2 separate regions of the Homo sapiens genome follow, and region 1 is linked to region 2. Evidence: fine-mapped expression QTL. A gene starts in region 2. The other region holds a variant in brackets. All regions are shown on one strand. Distances are from middle to middle.

Region 1 (12,288 bases), 76 kb after region 2:
CATCAGTGGATCATGGCTTTGGGAATCTCAGACTCATAATAATTACCACCTGTTTTGTGTTTGCAACGTGCCAGACACGGTAGTAGAGACCAGGATTTCAGAAATAAGTTAGATGTAATTCTGTCCCCAAATAATTTATGCCTAATAATAAAAACAGGTTTATGTCCACTTTGGATGAAATGAGTTGCTCTCATTCTGTTGCTCAGGCTGAAGTGCAGTGGCACAATCTCATCTCACTGCAATCTCATTGTTCCAGGTTCAAGTGATTCTTGTGCCTCACCCTCCCGAATAGTTGGGATTATAGATGTGCACCAACACACCCACTAATTTTTGTATTTTTAGTAGAGACAAGGTCTTGCCATGTTGGCCAGGCTGGTCTCAAACTCCTGGCCTCACGTGATCCACCCACCTCAGCCTCCCAAAGTGCTGGGATTACAGTCATGAGCCACTGTGCCCAGCTGGAAGCCAAGATTTTAATGCAAAATAAGAATTATCTAGGGTGAAGCTACAATATTGTGAAGGGAGTACAGAGCTGGCTTGAGATTAGAAAGGTTTTCTAGAGAGGTCACCCTCTCTAGAGTCAGTTTCAAAGTTGGGTAATACCAAGTGATTAACAAATACATCAACAGTTAAGGGCAGTTTAGGTGAACAGACTATGTGCAGATCATCTAACATAGTCACTGAAGATTAAGTAAGAATAAGAAATAGGCCTTGCTAAGCACTATAGGGAGGGAAGACAACCTAACCGATAATTATGTTAAGTATTATAACAGAAGCGAGCACAATGTCCAAAAACTGCATAGAGGCGGGTATTTCACTCAGCTCTGCAGATCAGAAAGGCTTCCCAGAACAGTAATGCTTTAGCTGAATCTTAATGAATAAGGATTTTTCCTGTGGTCAGAGAAGTGGGAAGGAAAGGACAGTTAAGGAGAGATTATACAGAAGATATTGGAAATGGAATGGATAATTTGTGCTCAGTCATTCGGCACTCACTATGTGCTAGACACTGGATGTTATCACAAGATGGGGTGGAGATTGATCTTGGACAAGACATACAGCAGCCAGATCATCTTTTTAAAAAGTAAATCACATCATTTTACTCTCCTATTCAACAACCTCCAAAGTGTGCTCCCCTTGCAAGCATAATAACTATTGTGGGTTCTTAGCATGACCCACACTGTCCAATATGATCAGTTCCCAAAAAATTTCGACAAGCTCACCTCCTGCCACATGCACTTACTCCCTCTGGCATTTTTTCTGTTTTGTAGGACAAACCTTTGGCTTCCCCAGGGGATTTTCTCCCTCCACCTGGAATGCTCATTCCTCATCATTTAGGTCTTAGCTCAGATGCTTTCAGAAGCCTTTCATTATCACCATATGAGAGTAACCCTCTTCCCCCAACGCCCTGCCTTAGACAATCTCAGTCTCATCTCCCTGTTTTTCGTTGTTGTTTTTTTTTCCTTTTTTTTTTTTTTTTTTGAGATGGAGTTTCACTCTTGCCACCCAGGCTGGAGTGCAATGGCACCATCTTGGCTCACTTCAACCTCCACCTCCTAGGTTCAAGTGATTCTCGTACCTCAGCCTCCCAAGTAACTAGGATTGCAGGCACTCACCACCACGCCCAGCTAATTTTTTGTAATTTTAGTAGAGATGGGTTTCACCATGTTAACCAGGATAGTCTCAATCTCTTGACCTCGTGATCCACCCACCTCGGCCTCCCAAAGTGCTGGGATTACAGGTGTGAGCCACTCTTAGGCCCCATCTCCATTTTACTCTCATAGTATTTATTACAATCTTAAAATGCCCATTTCTTTGTGTTATCTGCCTCCTCCAACAATACTCCACAGAAACAGAGATCTTATTTGTCTCTTAGACACTGCTCTAGCTTCAGCATCTAGAAGACTTGGCAATTATCTATTGGCTAAATGAATAAATAATGACCTTGAGAGTGAGTAAGCTGAGGGATGTTCATGATCACGAGAAGTGAGATTAGTTTAAAGAGCTTTCCTGGGTAAGAGTAAGCTCAGAGTAGGAAACTGAAAGGCGGATTGATGAAGATATAAATAATAATCCATGAGGAACTACATTATAAAAGTTTCTTTAAAAAGATTCTTAACATAGTAAGCATGACTGTATACATTGTGAGTATACAAACCTGGAAATTTATACCAGTGAATTTAAAATTGCATCTCTATAACACCATAAATCAATTTATTGTTTTGGCAAAGTATGGTAGCTATGCTGTCTCTTCTGTTGGAAGACATCTTTCAACTCATTATCTATTATTCTTTTAGCTACTGATTCTATGCCAGGCTCTCAATTATAGGATTCATGTGCTTAAGGAAAATATAGCCTGAAAGACCAAATCCAATCAAAGTAGGTAAAATATATACTGTCTGAAATTGCCTCACCATATGGCTTGAGAATTTCTCAACTAGCATTTATTTATGCATTATTTGTATGGTTTTTTATTTTTAAAATTTCCTTTTTTTCTTTGTTCATACCGAGTCCTGCACGTCTTATTAATTTTTTAAATAAAAGAAATACCTATGAGAAAGAGGCCAGGCATGGTGGCTCACGCCTGTAATCCCAGCACTTTGGGAGGCTGAGGCAGGTGAGTCACCTGGTTTCAGAAGTTTGAGACCAGACTGGCCAACATGGGGAAACACCGTCTCTGCTAAAAAAAACACAAATATTAGCTGGGCATTGTGCTGCCACCTGTAATCCCAGCTACTCGAGAGGCTGAGGCAGGAGAATCACTTGAACCTGGGAGGCAGAGGTTGCAGTGAGCTGAGATCGCGTCACTGCATTCCAGCCTGGGTGACAGAGTGGGACTCCATCTCAAAAAGAAAAAAAAAATACCTATGAAAAACAAAGACAACTTTTTAAAAACCTACTCTTTATCAAACATACATACCTAGGAATTTATCGTAAGGATAAAATTTAACAGAATTGAAAAGATAAGTGTGGCAATGTTAACTTGTTAACTATACTCTTATTTGTAAGAATAAAAACAAACAATAACAAAAGAAACTATGCATCAACTTGGAGGAGAATTCCGTGGCTTATAAAAATGATATCCCAAAAAACATAGAAAAATATTTATGATTACATATCAAATGAAAATAGCAGAGCCTGACATGGTAGCCTGCGCCTAGGATCCCAGCTGTTTGTGAGGCTGAGGCAGAAGAAGCGATTGAGGCCAGGTGCAGTGGCTTACGCCTGTAATCCCAGCACTTTGGGAGGCCAAGGCGGGCAGATCACCTGAGGTCAGGAGTTCGAGACCAGCCTGGCCAACATGGTGAAACCCTGTCTCTACTAAAGATGTGAAATTATCTAGGCATAGTGGAGGATGCCTGTAATCCCAGCTACTTGGGAGGCTGAAGCAGGAGAATGGTGTGAACCTGGGAGGCGGAGCTTGCAGTGAGCCAAGATAGATCGCGCCACTGCACTCCAGCCTGGGTGAGAGAGAGAGACTCCGTCTCAAAAAAAAAAAAAAATTGATTGAGCCCAGGAGTTTTTGAGTCTGCGGTGAGAGCTATAATCATTCAACTGCGCTCCAGCCCAAGTGACAGAGCAACACCTCGTCTCTTAAAAAGAAGAAAGAGAAAATAAGAGAATACAAAATAACATTAGTAGTATAGCATGTTGGGTCAAAAACAGATTTTTGGAATATGACAATCCTGATCCAAATCACATTTAGTTACTTAGGAACTATGTGACTTTGGGCATGTTCCTTATCCTTACTAAGGCTCTGTTTTCTCATTTGTAAACTAAGAATACCAATAGCACTAATTCTATCACATAGGAACAATGCTTTTGTTAACTGGAATTCACATTTAAAAATTTTATCGGAATGCCCCCATTAAAAATATTCATTTGAAAGTCATTTACACTCAAAAATTTCACCTTCTTTGCAACATACTTTATATCTTAGATTTAAATTTCCATGTTCATCATGAAATAACTGACAGAATCTACTGCTGTGTTGTCAAATGTTTTGCAGAACTCGATAACTCTACACTCTTCACAGTGAATAAGCCTTAAAAATTAAAACTAAGCAACTGAAAATAGAGTGCTAGTTATTTAAGGAAGTTATGGCTCTCATTGTTTTTTTCTTCCATTGCATTCATGGCTCAACATCAAAGCCATTTATCTTATGAAAGGACTTCAATAAAGTTTCATTAGAAAACTTAATTAAGAGAAGTTGAAATATTAACAGAGTAGAAAAGAAGGAAATAATGATCAATCACATAAAATAGGAAAAGAAAGCAAAATTAGTGAAAAAGTACTTGTACAGAGAACAGATGAAATGGGTTAATGAAATGGAATAATAAATCTGTGTATAACTTTCACAGATGGCTATGATTCCAGATATGATATCTACATGCAGCATTTAGTATACTTGATAGTTTCTTTTTAACTCACTCAGCAATTGTAAATCTATAAAATTTAGAAATGCTGAGATAATATGACTTGCTGTTTCTGGCTCATGGATTTGTCACTCAAGGCTGTGATACAAAACACATTATCAAGCTCACCAGGCTGCCTCTTTCATTCAGTGGAAGAGGGCTGTAAAGGATACCATATTTGCCTACAAATGTTAACTAGCTCATTTGCTCCTGCATCATTGGCAGCACTTCATGAATGTCATAAATACCAACAGGCATTTCTATTGCCTCTTTTATAATAAGTTTATTGAGATATTTATACTTTTCTACCTAGAGATGTTTTTGATTATCATCAGTGCTACAAATTGGGATAACTGCAGTAGTAGATCCCAAGAGATTTCTATCCTGATAATTGGGGGTGGGAGTAGATGTGTTTCTTAGTTGGAAGGCACAGTTAAAAGTAATTTTAGTGGGCACAGTGCATCCACCTATAGTCTCAGTCACTCAGCAGGCTGAGCTGGGAGGATCGCTTTAGCCCAGGAGTTTGAGCCCAGCCTGGGTAACACAATGAGACCCCATCTCAAAAAATGATAATAAATAAATAATAATTTTAGTTTCCCATTCACTTGATGCTTTTCATGATCAAGCGAAGGTTGGGCTAAAGATTCCAGTATTAGGAGGTTCCCAAAGACAGTTGAGAGTTGTATTTTCACGGGATCAATTTTCCTGGGGCTTAGGGCGATCTTAAAAGTCACAATCAGCTCTGAATTTGTTGCTACACAAGCAAAACTAAACTTATAAATCTGGACCCATTGCTATATATCACCTACATAACAAGATGGGGCCATGCAGTGGAGTAGAATAAGGTGACCATAACGGAAGAAGCTGTAAACATCTTACACTGGAAAAATAGTGGAATAAAGAGCAGTGTCAGAGAAAATAGGCCATGTGGTAGCTCCAACATTTATGTAATCATTTATTTTGCTTCCTTGTATCCCTAGCTAAGCCTCTTCTTCCTCTGTGTGTGTGTGTGTGTGTGTGTGTGTGTGTGTGTGTGTGTGTGTTTGGTTGTGTATCCTCTTCCTGATAAGATTCCCTCTTTACACCGGTACAATCAACTCCTTAATTGGAATTAGAATTTCTCTGTCTGGAATTTATACATATATCTTAGGATTGTATTTACCAGTAAAAAAAGCCCTTCAAGTTTACAAAGACTATATGGTAAGAAATCTAAGCTTAATTTTCCTTTCATTGCACTACTTGACTTACAACAGTAACCATGCAAATGGATTTATGCTTCAATGTGTAAAATGAAAGGACTTTCCTCCTTCACTTCGCACATGTACACATACACATCTGAAGGCATTTAGCAATGTGTCCAGCACAAAACAGACACTTAATTAATGTTACTTTCTGTTTCCTTTTGAAGAACAGTGTGTTAGCCACCTACACAACACATTAAGGAATTAATGGGCAAAGCAAAAGGCCAAGAGAGAATAGCTCAGTAGTTAGAAATATGAGCTTCGGTATCAGACCGGATTTTGAATTCTGGC[C/T]TTACCATTTAGCAGCTCTCTGTCCTTAGAAAGATCACTTAAACTCTGATTCTCAGTTTCCTCTGGTACAAAGTGAGGATAATACTACTTAGGCCATAGAATGTTTGTTAAAAGTAACAAGCTATTGCATGCATGCAACACACAAAGCACAGTTCCTAGAATATAATATGTACTCAATTATGAAAAGAATTTTAATTTCTTTTTAAAACGGCATACCCACTAATCATTAGAGTAAAACACAAATCAAAACCACAATGAGATGTCACCTCATACCCATTAGGATGGCCACTATCAACAAACCAGAAAATAACAAGTATTGGTGAGGATGAGGAGACATTTGAGTCTTTGTGTACCGCTGGTAGAAATGTAAAATGGTGTAGCTGCTCTTGAAAACAGCATGATTCCTCAAAAAACTAAAGACAGAATTACCATGTGAGGTAGCATCCCACTTCTGGGTATAAATACAAAAGAATATAAAGCAAGAGCGCAAAGAGGTATTTGTACACCTATATTCAATGCATCATTATTCACAAGAGCCAAGATGTGGAAGTAGCCTGAAATTCCGTTTATAAATGAATGGATAAAGGAAACGTGTCATATACATATTTAGCCTTTTAAAAAAGAAGAAAATTTTGTTATATGCTACAACATCGATGAACCTTGAAGACATTATGCTTAGTAAAATAAGCCAGTCACAGAGGAACAAATACTGTATAATTCCACTTATGTAGAGCTATGTAGAGTAGGGGAAACCACGGAAACAGAAAGTAGAATGGTGGTTTCCAGGAGCTAAGGGGAGGGTGAAATGGGAGTTGTTATTTGATGGGCAAAGGATTTCGGTTTTGCAAGATGAAAAAGTTCTAGAGATCTGTTACCCAATAATGTGGATACAGTTAACACTATTGTAATAGTGCACTTAAAAATGGTTAAGAGTATAAATTTATATTATGAGTTTTTCACCACAATTTTATCAAAAAAAATAGGGCATACTGAAAAAAAAAAAGTGCATCTTTAAGGATGTTCTCTCTAGCTCTTCTCCAACGCCAGAATACAGAATGAGGAGGAGAAAGGAGACATGAAAATAAAGAAAGTCAAAAACCATTTTTACCGTTCTTAAATTATGTTTATGGGATTCCTTCAGGTTAATGAGGAAAGAAAAATCTGTGTAACTGACAGCAAAAGCTAATTCGAAGCATCCTTTCTCCCTCAGCTTTGGGAATACTCAAAAGAGGGGACTAGAAATCACCCATTATAGATAAGAAAAGTCTGCGAATGTATTTATACAAATGCTTTGCCTTTGAATTGGAAGTAAGAATAGTTAAAAGAGAGGAAACAAAACTTTGAAAGGGAGGGAAGGAAGAAGGCACTGTAGAAAAATCTTACAGTTTGGAGTCAAGATGAGGAGTTTGAATCCTCTTTCTACTTGGTTATCCTCTCTGTGGATGACTTTGTCAGTAAAAATGGTGATGTTCATACTTTCTAACAGAGGTGTTGTGAGAACTAACTCAAGATATTATGTTTGAAATGTTCTTTTCATCTCATGAAACATAATCCACATTTTACTTGTGATTTTACAGACGGCAAACAGTAGCTAATTACCACCCCAAGGAAAAACAGTAAGTAATTTCTACCTTCCTGCTCACGGGGCTGTAATCATTTATATTTTGACACTTGTTGCTAGTCTTGTTAATGAATGTCAATATTAATTCAGTATGGGAAAGTGTGGGAAATTTCTATCTTCAAAGTGAAAATGTGACAACATACCCCCTGGGCATTAAAGGAAATAAAGCATTCTTACTAAAACAAGGAAGAAATTTAATGTTTCTTAAGGGCAAATAAGTATCTCAAATCATAGCTCAAGAATGTGACTCTATTCATGGTTCTCCCTTTTTCTACAGATAATCTAAAATATTTACAAAAGGTAATAACCAAATTCACTTCCAAAGACAAAGGAGGGAATTTCACCATGAAAGAGAGGAAATGAAAGAATTTTTGAACAATGAGGCTGATAGAACTATGGATTTTTTCCAAAAAGGAAATAATTAAATTTTTTTCCTTGGGGTTTTTAATTAAAGGTCCTCCACATCCTAAAGTATGATGGGGGTAATGTCCGTCGGAATACCTCTTGGAGTTAGTTCACAATACTGAGAATTAATGTTTCCTAAAATTGTGTTTCAGTAATGCTGCTTTCTATGTTTTCTTTTTTCTTGTATGTTGTAGCTTCAACAACAAAATACACTTAGTGGCTTTACTACTCTTGACTAACAGATTTGGGTGTTGAACAAGAAAAAACAGAAGAAAAATCTAAGTAGAACTCACTGGATATTAACAACCATGTGCCATTTTCTAAAATAGCTCAGACTTGTCTATAGCCTTGTTTCTTTTGTTTTGTTTTGTTCTCGCTCTGTCGCCCAGGCTGGGGTGCAATGGCACCATCTCAGCTCACAGCAGCCTTGGCCTCCTGGGTTCAGGCTCAGGTGATCCGCCCACCTCAGCCTCCTGAAGGGCTGGGATTACAAGCATGAGCCACCATGCCCAGCTATAGTCTTGTTTCTTGATCAGTTTTGTTTGTTGGTTTGTTTTATTGGCAAAGAGAACTCATCAGATAGGGTGTGTGTGTGTGTGTGTGTGTGTGTGTGTGTGTGTGTGTGTGTGTGATAACCCTTTCTCTGCTGGAGTTGGTTTACTTTACTACTGAAATTTTTAAAATATTTGATTAAATATTTTATATTAATATTTATTTTTGCTTTATTTTAACATGAAAATTCAACCAGTATAATTTGGGTGGGGGGGAGGTGCATACTTAATATTAAAAGCACTCGCTTATGATCTTAATGAGTTCATTAAAGGAAAGTTATTAAGTAATATTACCATAGTAAAAGTAAAGTAAGTAAATGAAAGTTCAGCTCTATCTTCCAGTGGTTATTGCTTTTATTAGCTCACAATGAACCAACATTAGCTTCTTTTGCTAGTGTCTCTGAATACTAACAGTAAAGCAGTTCTGCTGGTTTCCACTTCACTGATCTACTCTTGATTTACATCAACGGTGAACCTTTCACTTAGTTACCTCTTTAGACTTGCTTTCCACACATCCTGTTTATGTGCAGTCAGCAGGAAGAAAACAAGAATGTGGATATGAGCAGGAAGAGAAAGATGAAGAAATAAAATGCTTTCAGAAAAGTAGAAATTTCTATGAAAGTCCCCAGCATATTTTTTTTAAACACTGGAAACGGTCTTTGTGAATCATCCAATCTGACTGTTTGTTAGCTGTCATCCAGCAAATCCTTGAAGATGAGGAACTTGAACGTTTAAATAGAAGTCGATGACACATTCTTTGTCATGTTTTCCTATTTCTCTAACTAAAACAAGAGTTTGCCATGGAGATGTTCTTGAATTAGGCTTCACATCTGTGGCATTATGGTTTACAGAAATAAACCAGACTCCCTAGAATTGGAGTCTGGATTCTAGCTAGACATGACTGTCCAGTGATGTGACCTTGGGCAATTTTCCTTAATTCACAAGGCCTTACGTACCCTCTGGAGTTACCTAAAATCTCTACCTTTAGAGATTAAGGGATATTGAATTTCACAAGAATTCATAAACCCATAAACAAGAATTCCAGAGATGAAGGCATCAGATTGATTGCCCTATTGGATCAGGAAGAGGCAGAAAGCTCCACCATGAGGTGTGGGAATAAAGAGCAGATACAGTTGATTGAGGTTGAGCGTGTCAATGAAAGCAGAAATGTGGTGGGGTATCCTGGCATCTGTATACTGCTCTTCTTTACCCCAAGGACATTCACGGTTGGCTGAGATGCCTGGGAGTGACATGGCTTGAGAGCAGGTTTTTGAAGGATGAAAAGAGGATATTTGCCTAAAAGTGTCACCAGGAAGCAAAGAGAAAGCCATTGTCCTTGTACTTGGCAATAAAGTTCAAGAGTAAGACTATATCTGAGATTGCAAAGAAAGAATAGCAGGTTAAATATGGAGGCATGGACAACATTATAAAAAGTGTATCTTTGTTCAAGTAACACATACTCATTGTTGAAAAGTTAAAAGGTACAGATAATCACAAAATAAACTCACTACAGATAAGTGCAGAAAAAATAAGCACTGTGAACATTTTGCTGCACATCATTGCAGGCTTTTCATAGATAAACCTTCTGCAGGTGTAAAAAGTATCAGATTCAAATATCTGTGGGTTGTGCTTGCTAGACAACTCTTAAGCTGTGTATTGTTAAAATAAACCTTATATAATGTATTGTAGCTTATTGTGAAAGGGTCAAGAAATCAAGATAGCTGTTTCTCTTATTTCCATTAAAAATCTATTCATTTCATGTTAGGAGGACAGTTAACTTGTTACCAAGCAGAACTGTATTTAAAACAAATTCGAAAACTATTCATAACCTATATGTATTTAGTCCTGGTTAGACATAAAGCTTCACAGTGCTGTTTTATGCATCACATTAACCAGCTATAAAACACACAGGACTTTATCTATAGCAGACAGAGAATTTCAGGATTTATATACAGATACCCTACAAAGTCATGTGATTTTAAAATCAGTGTTTTATTATTTATTTATTTATTTATTTATTTTGAGATGGAGTTTCGCTCTTGTTGCTCAGGCTGGAGTGCAATGGTGCGATCTCGGCTCACCGTAACTTCCGCCTTCCAGGTTCAAGTGATTCTCCTGCCTCAGCCTCCTGAGTAGCTGGGATTACAGGCATGCGCCACCACACCCGGCTAATTTTGTATTTTTAGTAGAGACAGGGGTTCTCCATGTTGGTCAGGCTGGTCTTGAACTCCTGACCTCAGGTGATCCGCCTGCCTTGGCCTCCCAGTTCTGGGATTACAGGCATGAGCCACCGCACCCAGCCTTCAGTGTTTTATTATTAAGAACTATCAAGTTACTTGTAAAACTATTCTAATTAAAAGTGGGTCTAAATATTTTCCAAAAAATAGGTTTATGCTCTATATACTGTTTTTTAATTGAGGTGGAATTCACATAACATAAAATTAATTTACACTTTGAAGTGAACAATTCAGTGGCTATTAGCATATTCACAGTGTTGTGCAACCAGCACATCCATCTAGTTTCGGAAGCATTTCATCACCCCAGCTGGAAACCTGGTACCATTAAACAGTTGGTCTCCATTCCTCCCTCCCCCTAGTGTCTGGCAACCACTATTCTATGTTCTAGCTCTAAGGATTTACCTACTCTGGATATTTCATATAAATAGAATCATACAATGTCTGACCTTTTGTGTCTAGCTTCTCTCACTTAACATAATGTTTCTGAGATTCATACATGCTGTACTATCAATACTTTTGTAAAAAGTTTTAATACTTATTATGATTGAATAATATTCCACTGCATATATATATAATATATATATTATAGAAAGCATATGAAATTTTAATTAGAGGAATTTGTTCTAATTCTTTTTAAAGTATTGGTGTAGGGTTCCCTAGTTATTTAGACTATTTCTCCTCTTCCTAATGAAAAAAAAAACATATTTTCCAAAAGTTGGGAAACAGGCTATAGCTACAACCACAACCGGTCCAACCTCCCTCTTACCCCCACCCTCACTCCCACCCATGTCTCTGCTCTCATCTCCCACCCCAACACTCACTCTAAAAAGTTAACAATGGCCAGGTGCAGTGGGCAGTGGCTCACGCCTGTAATCCCAGCACTTTGGGGGACCGAGGTGGGCAGATCACCTGAGGTCAGGAGTTCAAGATCAGCCTAGCTAACATGGTGAAACCCAATCTCTACTGAAAATATAAAAATTAGCCAGGCATGATGGCAGGCACCTGTAGTCCCAGCTACTCAGGAGGCTGAGGCAGGAGAATCACTTGAACGTGGGAGGCCGAGATTGCAGTGAGCTGAGATTGCGCCACTGCACTCCAGCCTGGGCAACAGAGTGAGACTCTGTCTCCCTTAATCATACTAGCTAAGCTGCCCATGGAAGGTAAAAAATAAAATTCATTTTAAGTAAAATTTTCAAAATGTTTAAAATATACACAGGTATTAGGCCCGCTAGATCCAACACCTTTATGTCAATAGTAAGATGCACATACAAGACTTGGTGAGGATATAATTGTTTGCTACAGACAGTCCCCTACTTAAGATGGTTCAACTTGCATTTTTTCACTTCACAATAGCTCAAAAGTGGTTCACTTTCTGTACATTCCTCAACTTAAAATGGGCTTGCTATGGTATTTTCAACTCAGGATGGGTTTATCAGGATGTGACTCCATTGGTAGTCAGGAGCATCTGTATTTGCACATATCTAGGTGATGCTTAGCATTTCCAACTAGGCTTCCTAAATTTATTTTAAA
Region 2 (12,288 bases):
AAAAAAGAAAGAAAGAAAGAAAAGAAAAGAAAAGAGAAAAGAAAAGAAAAGAAAAGAATTTAGGCCCAACCTAAATGAATAGTTTAGCAGGGCCGTCTTCCATTGCGTGAATAGATTCAGATCAAAGACAGGTATAGCCACAATCCCTCTCATCTGTCAGATTTCACACAAAATTTTCTAATCTATTTGGAGGCGGGGATATTGATGAATATAGGACAACCACAGAGACTAAAAACCAAGTTGAAGTAAAAGAAGACTAAAGATGACATATCTATCTTCCAAGTATTTATCTTTTAAATCCCTCATACCGCCTTAAAAGGGGTAGACCCTTTGTTTCAATTGTCTAGGTAGGAGAGTTAGACTTAATACAACAAAAGCCAGTAATATTGAGACCAGAAGAACCTCCTAAAATTTAGAATGTTAGAGAATTTTAACAAAAGAAATCTGTAACCAATGGAAAGGGCTTGCTCAAAATGTAGTGATTTCCCTTTTGCCAGGGAATGTTCAAAAGAACTGGTCAACTCTTCATTAGATATTCTTGAATTAGGTGGGAGATTGTACTAGCTCAGTGTCTCCAACTGTTTTGTTTTGTTTTTACTTTTCAGCACTTTCAAAGAAATATATATTAACTTCACCTTCTTAGAATTTTTTTTAAAAATTTCACCTTTTTTCCAAATGGTAAGATTCAAATGTAACTTTAAATTGACAAATATTTGAGAAAAGTGTTATTAGTAAATATCATATTAAAAGGTTGATTTCCATGTAATGTTTGCTAATAATTCAAAAGAAAAAAACATCATTTCGCCAATCAATTTAAATATGACATGTTCAATTTTAGGATTGAATACAGATGGCTAAATGAGAAACATGATTTTACTAGTTAGCTGCAAAAAGTATATTTTTCTATCTCCTCATAATAATAGACTCTATCATCAGATACATCATGTATTAAAAGTTTTGGGGGTGAAGGTATCAAATGTACCCTAAACATTAGTTTTCCCATGCAGTACAGTTATTATTATGCAATTATAGACACTTCCCCAGGATTTGTGTCTTTAAAACTTATTAGGTGCTTTTAGACCAAAAATTAGAAAAGTTTACAATATGAAATGTTTGAAATTCTTAAATTTGTAGTTTTTTAGGTAGTTTATTTTCCATTTCTTGTCTCGTGTCTAATTGAAGAGATATGCAATTTCAAGGTTCAATTTCCTAAAATAATACATACAGGTATAAATAACCCTTATCTCACGGAAAAACAAATATTGATGTAATTTTATAGAATTTTGAACAGATGAAATCAACATATAGATGTGATTCTTGTTTTTTAAGCCTACTTTGCGTAAATATTCTAATATTTTCTTTCTTGTTTAGTTGATGTATTTCAGCATCGATATCCCTTAAACTTTCTATCTTTAGCCAATTAATTGTGGGAATTGAACTATATGTATATGAAGAAATATATAATTTAATTAATTCCCATATATGACTAATAATATATGTTTTTAAAACTGTATACTGGTAAAACCTATCATGAAAGCTAAAGGTTTAAGGTGGTGATTAAAAAATATTTAGAAGGCTTGTGATAAAAAGAATCTTAGCATTTACATGAATTTAGAAGCACCGAACACTTCAGGAATCAGCAGACCAACAACGTACTATCCATCTTTAAAAGGAAGGAAAGTAAGTGTGTGGAGAAATAGCTATTTTCATCATCTACAGGAAAAGAAAATTAGTATAACTTCAATGAAGAACAATTCAATGACATCAACCAAAGTTACAAACCAACATACTCTGATCCTGCAATTTGGCTTCTGGAATACGTAGATATATATGTATGAAATAACATAAGCAAAAATTAACTATTGCAGCATTATCTGTAATAGCATATGTGTGAAAACAAAGTAAATGCCTATCAATGGGGGATAAATTATGGTATATCCATCAGCGTCTAGAAAATAAAAAAGATAAGAGAGCTTTTTATGCATTCATATGGAAAGATATCCAAGATACATTAAGTGAAAAGTAAGCAAAGTAGACGAGTATATAGTGTTATAATAATTACATAAAAGGGACAGATATTTTATATATATATTTTATATATAATTTATATATAATTAAATGTAAACATGCACACATAGTATATATATATATTAATATATAAATATATATTTATATATACATATTTATATATATTTAAAATATATATTTATATATTTAAAATATATATATTTATATATTTAAAATATATATTTAAAATAAATATATATATTTAAAATATATATTTAAAATAAATATATATATTTTAAATATATTTATATATTTTAAATATATAAATATAAACAGAAGTAATATAATATATAAATCTATATTTATATATGCATATACAATATATGCCTATATATATGTGCATGTTTATTTTATATTTAAACCAATTAACTTTTTATTGAAGTACTATATTCAGAAAAGTGAATGTGAGTGTAATCTCCAAGAATTTTCATAAACTGAACACACCCATGCAACTGGCACCTACAGCCTAGGTCCTGAATCAAAAAATAGAACATTACCATCATCCTAAATACCTCATGATTCCCTTCTAATCAATGCCTCTCCCCTACTAGAGAGAAGATTTCTATAAGCATAAGTTAGTTTTATTTATTTTTGTACTTTATACAAATGGACTCATGCAATATGTACTCTTCTGTATCTGGCTTTTTTCATCCAACATTATATTTGTACACTGTTTAATTTCATTCCCATTTAGTATTATATTGCATAAATGTGCCAAAATGTATTTATCTATTCTACTATTTATGGATATCTGGGTAATTTCCAGTTTGAGGCTATTATAAACACCACTGCTATGAACATTCTAGTAGATGCATACACATGTCCACATACCGAAGCAAGGAATTACTGGGTCATAGGATCTGCATATCTACAATTTTAATAGATACTGACATACAATTTACAAAATTGATTGAACCAATCAACACTCCCATGAGCAGTGTACAAGAGCTCCTGTTGCTCCAAATCCTCACTCACACTTGGTATATTCTGTCTTTTTAATTTTATTCATTCTACTGTTTGGATAGTAGTGTTGCAATGTGAATAAAATTTGTGATTCCCTGATAATTAATGATGTTGAGAACCTTTTCACCTCTTTTTCAAGGTATCTAAGTCCTCTTCTCAATTTTTCTATTGCATTATGAGTCCTTATTGTTTTAAATTTTAAACCATGTGATATGGTTTTAAAAAGTAAATTTAAAAGTAATGTAATTAACAATACAAATAAATTCCATGAAGTTCTATGCTTCATGCTCTCTCCTTCTTAGAGATGCATATTAGCATTTCAAAAGTTCTGAAAAGTTCTACATTTTTCACCACCACAAAACAGTTTAGAGAAATGTTGTCTCCCTTCTGATGTAATTTTCATGGAATTAACAATTGTCTCCTTTTTTTACTTGTATTTTTTTTTACAATTCATTCTCCAATTTTATCCCATAGTTCATTAGATCTATCAAACATCTATCAATATAATTTCTCAAATACTCAAAATTAGATAATCTATCATTTCAATTACTGTAACTACTGTTTTCTCTTGAAGTCTGCCATCTCCCTGTTCAGTGAAAATGGGTTGCTCTCCAATTCTGCCATATTTCTCTCATCCTGGAGTTTCCCTTCTTAATTTCCTGGTCCGGTTTTCTGGATCTCATGTCTTTCTTTTTCTTGGGCTACTCCCATGTTTTGCTGAACACATTCTCTAGGAGCTTTCTTTAAAAAAAAAAAATGACATGGAAAGAAAGTATTTCATTCTTGTATATGTGAAAATGTTTTTATTCTGCCCTTACATTTGACGGAAAGTTTGACTATAGAATTCTAAGTTGGAAGTTACTGTCCTTCAGAATATTGGAAAAATTTCACTTCATTATATTTCAGGATAACAATGACTTAGTAACATTGTTAAGAAATTCAATGCCATTCTAATTCCCATCTCTTTAATTTTTGTTTCCGCCCTCTGAAAACGTTTAGAATCTTCCCTTTAGTGTTAGTGTTCTCACCCTTTTAATGATGTATGTGCCTTAATGTAGGTCTTTTTACTTGGTGGGCCCTTTAAATATGAAGACTCCTGCCCTAGCAAAAATTTTTAAATTATTATTTTGATCATTTCTTCCCTGTTTATTTTTTGTTCTCTTTTTCTAGGACTCAGGTTTTTAATTAATTGACTGGATAAACATGTCAGGCCTCTGAGCCCAAGCTAAGCCATCATATACCCTGTGACCTGCACGTATACATCCAGATGGCCTGAAGCCACTGAAGAACCACAAAAGTGAAAATAGCCAGTTCCTACCTTAACTGATGACATTCCACGATTGCGATTTGTTCCTGCCCTTCCCTAACTGATCAATGGACCTTGTGACACTCCTTCTCCTGGACAATGAGTCTCAGGAGCTCCCCACTGAGCACCTTGTGACCCCCACCCCTGCCCGCAAGAGAAAAACCCCCTTTAACTGTAATTTTCCACTACCTACCCAAATCCTATAAAGACTGCCTCACCCCTATCTCCCTTTGCTGACTCCTTTTTCGAACTAAGTCGGCCTACACCCACATGATTAAAAGCTTTATTGCTCACCCAAAGCCTGTTTGGTGGTCTCTTCACACTGACGCGCGTTAACAGAATGAATGGATAGAAAAGTCTTCTGAGTACTTTTTAAGAAAAAAGCTTATTGGCCGGGCGCGGTGGCTCACGCCTGTAATCCCAGCACTTTGGGAGGACAAGGTGGGCGGATCACGAGGTCAGGAGTTCGAGACCAGCTTGGCCAACACGGTGAAACCCCGTCTCTACTAAAAATACAAAAATTAGCTGGGTGTGGTGGCGGGCGCCTGTAATCCAAGCTACTTGGGAGGCTGAGGCAGAAGAATTGCTTGAACCAGGGAGGCAGAGGTTGCAATGAGCAGAGCAGAGATCGCGCCACTACACTCCAGCCTGGGTGACAGAGCACGACTCCCTCTCGAAAAGAAAAAAAAAAGCTTATTAAGCAATAAAGCACAGAGTATCAGACCATATGTTTAGTGCTGAACATTTTATTATAAATGATCAAAAATGTTTAACATACTATTGTTTACAACCTCCCACTACTGTAAAATCTAACATTGCTACTTTCATTTCAGGTAATGCAAAAATACAAGAAGCATTAGCTGTCTGTAGGCAGAAATCTGTTCGAGTCATTCCTTATTACTGAATCCCTAGAATTAATTAAACATCTAGTATGGAGTTGGTATTGTATATAACATTTGCACTCACGTCTTACAAAATAGTCATCTAAGTAGAAAGGTATTCAAGGCAGAAGGATGGAAAAACGTTTGCAGTCTTTTTTGGTTGGCATGAAACACTGACTGCATTCCTCCCAGATTTATAAGAAAGAAATATTTGCAGTCTTACCTGGAGTTAGATGGATGGACTCTCTCAAGGTTATTTTTCAATCTCTGCACATACATACTTATGGAAGTAAGAAAGAAGAGGGAGAAAAGGCAGATCCCCCATAACAGCGGTTAAACACCTGAACTTGCTCCACTATGACAGGGTTTATCATCCACCTCTCAGTCCTCAAGTGGCTGGAAATATGGAAATTGGAGTCCAGGTAGACAGGTGAGTGTACAACCTCTTAAGTGTGGAGCCCTCGGAATTCACAACACTCCCCAAATCGCTTCCTGCGCAGGCGCGGAGTCGGAAGGGAGTCGGAAAGCAGACCCCGGTGCCCCCTAATAAAGCCCCCAGCCGGACGCTGCCGCTACCGGGGTTTGGCAACTTCCGGAAGACCTGTGGCCCAAAGGAGAATCCTGTTGGGGGAGGCGGGGGCCGGTGGTCGCTAACCAATCCGACACCCGCCAGCAGGCTGAAGAGAGGGGCTTTCCCAAAAGGAAAACTTTCCCAAACCTGGGGGATGGGAAGAGAAGACAAAAGGAGCTCCCTTTCCCACTTCCCAGCCGCCCGTCCCAGCCCTCGGCCTCCGCTGCGCGACCCGGGCGGAGGATCCCGGCCGCAGGCCGAGGCGAGAGCCAGGCGGGAGGGCCGCGAGCGGGCTGCCCCTCTCCCCGCCTTGCCGTCCGCCGCTGACGTAACCTGCGAAGTTTGGGGAGGGAGGAGCTCGGGCGGCCGGAGCTGGTCGCTGCGCGCGCCGGGGGGAGGGCCGGGGCTGCGAGAGAGGAAGCTCTTTCGCGGCGCTACGGCGTTGGCACCAGTCTCTAGAAAAGAAGTCAGCTCTGGTTCGGAGAAGCAGCGGCTGGCGTGGGCCATCCGGGGAATGGGCGCCCTCGTGACCTAGTGTTGCGGGGCAAAAAGGGTCTTGCCGGCCTCGCTCGTGCAGGGGCGTATCTGGGCGCCTGAGCGCGGCGTGGGAGCCTTGGGAGCCGCCGCAGCAGGGGGCACACCCGGAACCGGCCTGAGCGCCCGGGACCATGAACGGGGAGGCCATCTGCAGCGCCCTGCCCACCATTCCCTACCACAAACTCGCCGACCTGCGCTACCTGAGCCGCGGCGCCTCTGGCACTGTGTCGTCCGCCCGCCACGCAGACTGGCGCGTCCAGGTGGCCGTGAAGCACCTGCACATCCACACTCCGCTGCTCGACAGGTAGGCAGTCACTGGGGTTCCCTGGAAGAGCCCTCAACTCCTGCATCCCCTCAAGCCCCCTGACAAGCGGGCTCTAGAGCCCAAATGGCAGTGACCGCTTGGGGCCGGCCTCACCTCGTCACCTCTAGGGAGCCCTTCAAGCTTGGGAGATAGGGAGCACCCACCCTTCAAGCTCTGGCACCGTAGGGAGCACAGGCTTCTCTGGAGATGCAGCAGTTGCATTCCTCCACACATCTCTCCATTACCCTTTCTCTCCTTCCCTCTTACTCCTAGGCGTTCTGGCTCCGTACTCCAAAAATCAGCAATCACTGCCTAACTCTAAACGCTGGGTTTACTGAAATTGATGTGTGTTTATATATAGTGGGTGTGGGTTTTGTTTGCTTTGTTTTTTCCTTATTTTTGAAATTGGGCTGTAGGGCTGCACTGTCCAGTAGGTAGCTCTTAGCCACAGGTGGCTATTGAGCACTTGAAATGTGCCCGTCCGAATTGAAGTGTGACCTAAGTGTAAAATACCAGAGTTCGAATGCTTAGTATTTATTAAAAAAAGAACTTATAATATTTTATTATTTGTTTATTGATTATATGCTGAAATAACATTTTTGATATCTTGGGTTAAATATAAGATTAAAATTCATTTTATGTGTTTCTTTTTACTTTATGTGGCCACGAGAAAATTTTAAATTGTATGTGGTGGTGTTCACATTATATGTTTATTGGACCGCACTGCTTTAGAATCAAGGATGTTTTGCTTCTTATTGTTTTTATTTTGGTTTTGGTTTATTATGTGTTGTCAGGAACGTTTTATATCAAACTCAATACTAGCAGTTCAGTTTCTCCCAGTCTCAGTTTCTCTCACAGGGAAGATTAAGTAGAGGAAATGTGTGCTATTTTTGCCACAATAAATTGAACCAAAAGACTGTTAAATGGCCAGAAATTGTAAATGGCTTTCACTTATTGGTTTGTACAGGTTTTAAGGGAAGGTTAGCATTAGTTTCTGTTTTCAGAAGAACATTACAACCGCGTGCCATAGACCTGTGACTGTGTATTAGTCAATGGGTCACTAGTCTTGTGTATTTTACTTCCTACAGGGATTTAACTAGGCCCAGCATTCAGTTCTTAGTGAGTTAACATCCATGATTACAACATTCTCTTCTCCTCCTCCTATATCTAATGTGAAAATACGTCATCCCCGATGCCTGATTGGCCAGAAGCTGTGAGTATCCAGCATCAGATAAATTCCTCAGCTTCCGCCCTGCCAAAGTTACTGGATTTTCACCTGCCTGTGGCTTTTCTTCATTGTCTCTCACTGTCAGGCTTCGATGGCCTAAATGGCACAGGAGATTTGGGACACTTCTAGAGCTTGTTTCCACTTCTTGTCTATCATAATCCAGATTCAGTGATATACAAGGTGTGGTGTCTGTTTACTCCAGGCCTTATATTCTGTGGAGCAAGTGCTGGACAAGTGTGTATATGTGTCTGTAGTCAACTTTTAAGGGTGGTGGTTGGTTAGAGAGGGTGGATATATGTTAGAACCAGTTATGCAAACACTATATGGAAATGTAGCACTGATGGACCCATTAGGTATTGAAAAGCCAATTGATCCTCCCACTTTGGGTGCTGCTTCTCAGGATTTTGATTTATCTAAGCTTTGTGCAGTTTGGGGACCAAGAAGTGAAGAGGGAGTTTCCTTCCCATACTCATGAACAATTTTCATAGTCTAAAATTCTTCACTGAATTGGGTAGGAAATTAATTCTGTCTTCGAGGAAGCCATAAGACCAGCGAAACACTCTGGCATTTACTGCATCACATTCTTTTCTCCAATTTGTTACTTAAGATCTTATCATTGCAGTATTTATGTAGTCTGAGCATTAGATGAGGCTATGCAGTTGACTCACTGGTGTCTCTTTCCTCACTTATAAAATACGAATAATAAATACATGTGTTTCTCGGACTATGGAGAACAATGTTTGCATTGTTCTTTGGGATGACCTGAAAAAAAATAAGTTTATGCAATGTTACATGCTCTTATTTTAATGACTGGTGAATCAGTCTCCATAACCTGACTTCTATCCGATGAGTGGACCTTCCCCAACAATCTTCCCACCCCTTATGAGTAATGAGTCCAATTGGTTGTTCAAATACCCTGTAGATGACATAACTTTTCTGATTAAATTTTTGAGTTAATTTTGGTGATGTGACTATGGAAGCTGTACTTTACACCTTTATTTTCAAAATGTAAAAATCAATTTTTAAAATCTTTTGGCTTTAAAAAAAATTTCCCACTCACTCAATCTTGCCAAAAATCTACCTTCAAGAACTTTCCTACTATATTCTTTGATCAAGCAATAGGGTAGAAAGAATGCAGGCTTTAATGTCCCATGATTGCAATTCAAATCTGACGCCAACCCTGCCACTTATTAGTGTGACCATTAGAAAAGTATTAATTTTTCTGAGCCTTAGTGCCCTCATTTATAAAGTGGAGCTAATGAAACTATGTTTAGAGGGTGATCTTAAGATGCTAGTGCATATAAAGTGACTGACATGTAATAGGGTCACAGTGGAAAGAAGAATGCCTCTTAATGGGAGGAGGAAAGAGTGTGTGAAGTGTCACTGAGACTTCTGCAGCATGCACTCTCTATTGTTCTTAGTATCCAGGAATCTTCAGGGTCATCCTCTATTGTTGGCCTAAATCTCTTGGGGCAGATATGGAACTATTTCCATCTAGGGAATAAACATTTAATTAAAATGGGTCTCACAAACTGATACTGGTTTCCTAGCAGTTGGAGTATTAAGTGATTGAAGGACAGAGAATGAGAGAAGCTTTTCACTTTATGCCTTCTTGTTACTCTTGAATTTTAAGACATATAAATATATGACCTATTCAAAAAATAAATGACGAAGATTCTTTTGCTTTGTTTTTTTGTTTGTTTTTAAAAGTAGTCCTCTTAGTCTGGTCTAGAATGTCTGTTGCTATTCATATTTCAACAGCCATTCATTCAGAGCTTGGGAGGTGTAAGAACTAACTTATCATCATTACTTACCTAATAGGCTTCTCCTGGAAACATTTCTATTTCTGTCATTGCTGCAGCCAACATCCAGTCACTCAGGGTAAAAAAATAATGACATCTCCAATTCCTTTTCATTTTTTTTTTAACCCCCTACAGTCAGTCACTACAACGCGGGCATTCTATTCACTTAGTGTTTTTCTTTCCATTTCCACTGCTACCTTTGTAGTTTTAGGTTCATGTATTAACTGGTATTAAAATCTCCTAACACCTGACTTTCAAACTCTACCACTTTCTACTAATCCTACATCTTGTTGCCAAATTGATCATCTTAAAATTGTATTCTACTGTCATTCCCCAACTCAAAAACTTTCAGTCACACCAGGTACATTGGCACACCCCTGTAGTCCCAGCTACTCAAGAGGCAGAGTAGGGAGGGCCAGTCTGGGCGACATAGCAAGATCTGGTCTGTTAAAAAAAAAAAAAGTTTCCAGTGTGTATTCTGTATGTTAAAAAAAGCAAACAAACCGTCAATCACTTAGTGACTGCTAAGTGAAGTTTCACCACCCTAACCAGGCTTTAAGACTGAGATATGTCCCTAACCTGTCTTATTCACCTTCACTCCTTTTATATTACATAAAAGGAGTGCATTAAACAATTCACAATTTCCCAACTTTAGCCTTCCCTTTAATTTCCTTGAAATCATTTGATACCTACCTATTGGACGTCTGATACAATTGAGCCCAGGAGTTTGAGGCCACCCTGAATAACATAGTGAGACCTTGTCTCTACAAAAAAAAAATAGGCACGGTTGCATGCCTGTGGAGCTAGCTGGCTGCTGGGGAGGCTAAGGTGGGAGGATGGCTTGAATCCAGGAGTTTGAGGCTATAGTGAGCTGTGATCACACCACTGCACTCTAGCCAGGGTGACAAAGAAAAATAGAAAAAAAAATAGTTAAATATATATTTGTTTTACATATGAATAAACAAATGAACCTGGGAGCCAGTTACCCCAGCAGTCTATTAATATTATTGAGCATTTACCTGTTCTCAGTGATCTTTTCCTGAGTTCTGGTATATAATTTATAAATATTACTGACTTTTATGCAGCTATTGAATCTATAACATTTAAAGGTTTTAATATTCAGGATATTTGGAAAATGTTTATATGGTATGCAACCATAAAATTTAATATAATATTCTAATAAAACATGCTCATTTGAATACAATGTAAACTTAATCATGTAATTAGTTCAAGCACCAATTGTTCTAACATAGATAGACTTTATAAATTTAATACTATGTTCTTTCCCATTCCTGGGATAAGTACAATAATAATAAACCTGTGTTTAGCACTTTTACCTGTCAATGGCTTATAGAAGTTAGTTTGGTCTCTAAACAGACCTGTGGAATATATAGGGTAGGTATTATTTCTATTTTAAATATGATGAAACTAAGGTGCAGAGAAGTTGCATAATTTACATGAGGTCACATAGCTAATTAATGAAAAAAAATCCAGGCTTAGTCTTATAGGCATGATAATTGTATATTTTTTTATTACTTGAATAATTATGCATTTTTTTTTCTTAGTGAAAGAAAGGATGTCTTAAGAGAAGCTGAAATTTTACACAAAGCTAGATTTAGTTACATTCTTCCAATTTTGGGAATTTGCAATGAGCCTGAATTTTTGGGAATAGTTACTGAATACATGCCAAATGGATCATTAAATGAACTCCTACATAGGGTAAGTATTACACAGTTTTAGTGGCCATAATTGCCATTTTTACTATTCAAACTATATTTTACTTTGATTTTATATTTGGTCAGATTATTTAGGGGTATATAGATGAATCAAAGAATAATGAAAAACTATCACAGGGATAAAATTTTACCTTTTGTGACATTTTTGTGTTGATTAAAACACTGTGGATTCAGGCCCTGTACTCTAGATTATTTTGCCTGGGTTACCATTCCTAACATTTATACCAAATTATAGTATTTACATGCATATTACATGGGTAGAAATGGAAGAGATAAACTCTGCATACTGTAAAATCCACTGTTAAGTGATATTTTATTTTATATTAATAGCAATTTCAAATTCAAATTTAATGTTATTAATACCAGTTCATAAAGTTCTGAATTAGCAGGCCAAATATTAATAAATTATCTCTGAATACCAGATACATTAGCTTTTCTAATAATAGACAGTGGTATCAGCCATTTACCCTTTTTCCCAAGGTACCAGTCACTCTCTCTTTGATTATGAATCCCTTGAGTAAACAAATTCAGGGGTCCTCATTCTCAAAATACATGTATTCATTATTAATATTATCATGAGTCTGTAGTTTCAGTAGATCTTTTTAAACTACTTGGTCCATTTTTTGAGGGTTGGCTTAATTAAAACTGTATTAATCTACAAAATCCAATCAATAGATACTCATAAATGATAGTGTAACACAATGCCCTGTAAGTGGCCAAGGGAAAGTGGGTGCCACTGTCAGTCAGTCATAGAGTAACTTCCTCTCAGTTTCAGAATACATCACATTCTATTCATGACTTGTGACCATTTGAAACAAGGATGGAATAAGTAACTGGTGTCAGTCTGTAAGATTTGTATAACTACCACAGAGCCAAGATACAAATATTAATAA

What was found.
Region 1: its variant is fine-mapped to the expression of RIPK2 in whole blood (INTERVAL, PIP above 0.99).

The regions. Positions count from the first base shown.
Region 1 is chr8:89,828,022-89,840,309 of GRCh38, forward strand. No RefSeq gene overlaps it. Among named protein-coding and RNA genes, the nearest start is that of OSGIN2, 68 kb to the right of the region's middle. RefSeq lists an enhancer at 9,127-9,226. The variant C/T (reference allele first, on the strand shown) is at 5,945.
Region 2 is chr8:89,751,605-89,763,892 of GRCh38, forward strand. It overlaps RIPK2 (receptor interacting serine/threonine kinase 2), which reads left to right and starts at 6,212. Exons shown (of 11, transcript NM_003821.6): 1 at 6,212-6,629; 2 at 11,225-11,378. The coding sequence starts at 6,457. PARAIL (palmitic acid regulated anti-inflammatory lncRNA) reads right to left here and starts at 6,107. Exons shown (of 5, transcript NR_125822.1): 1 at 5,441-6,107. RefSeq lists a silencer at 5,958-6,077 and enhancers at 6,618-6,687, 7,966-8,055.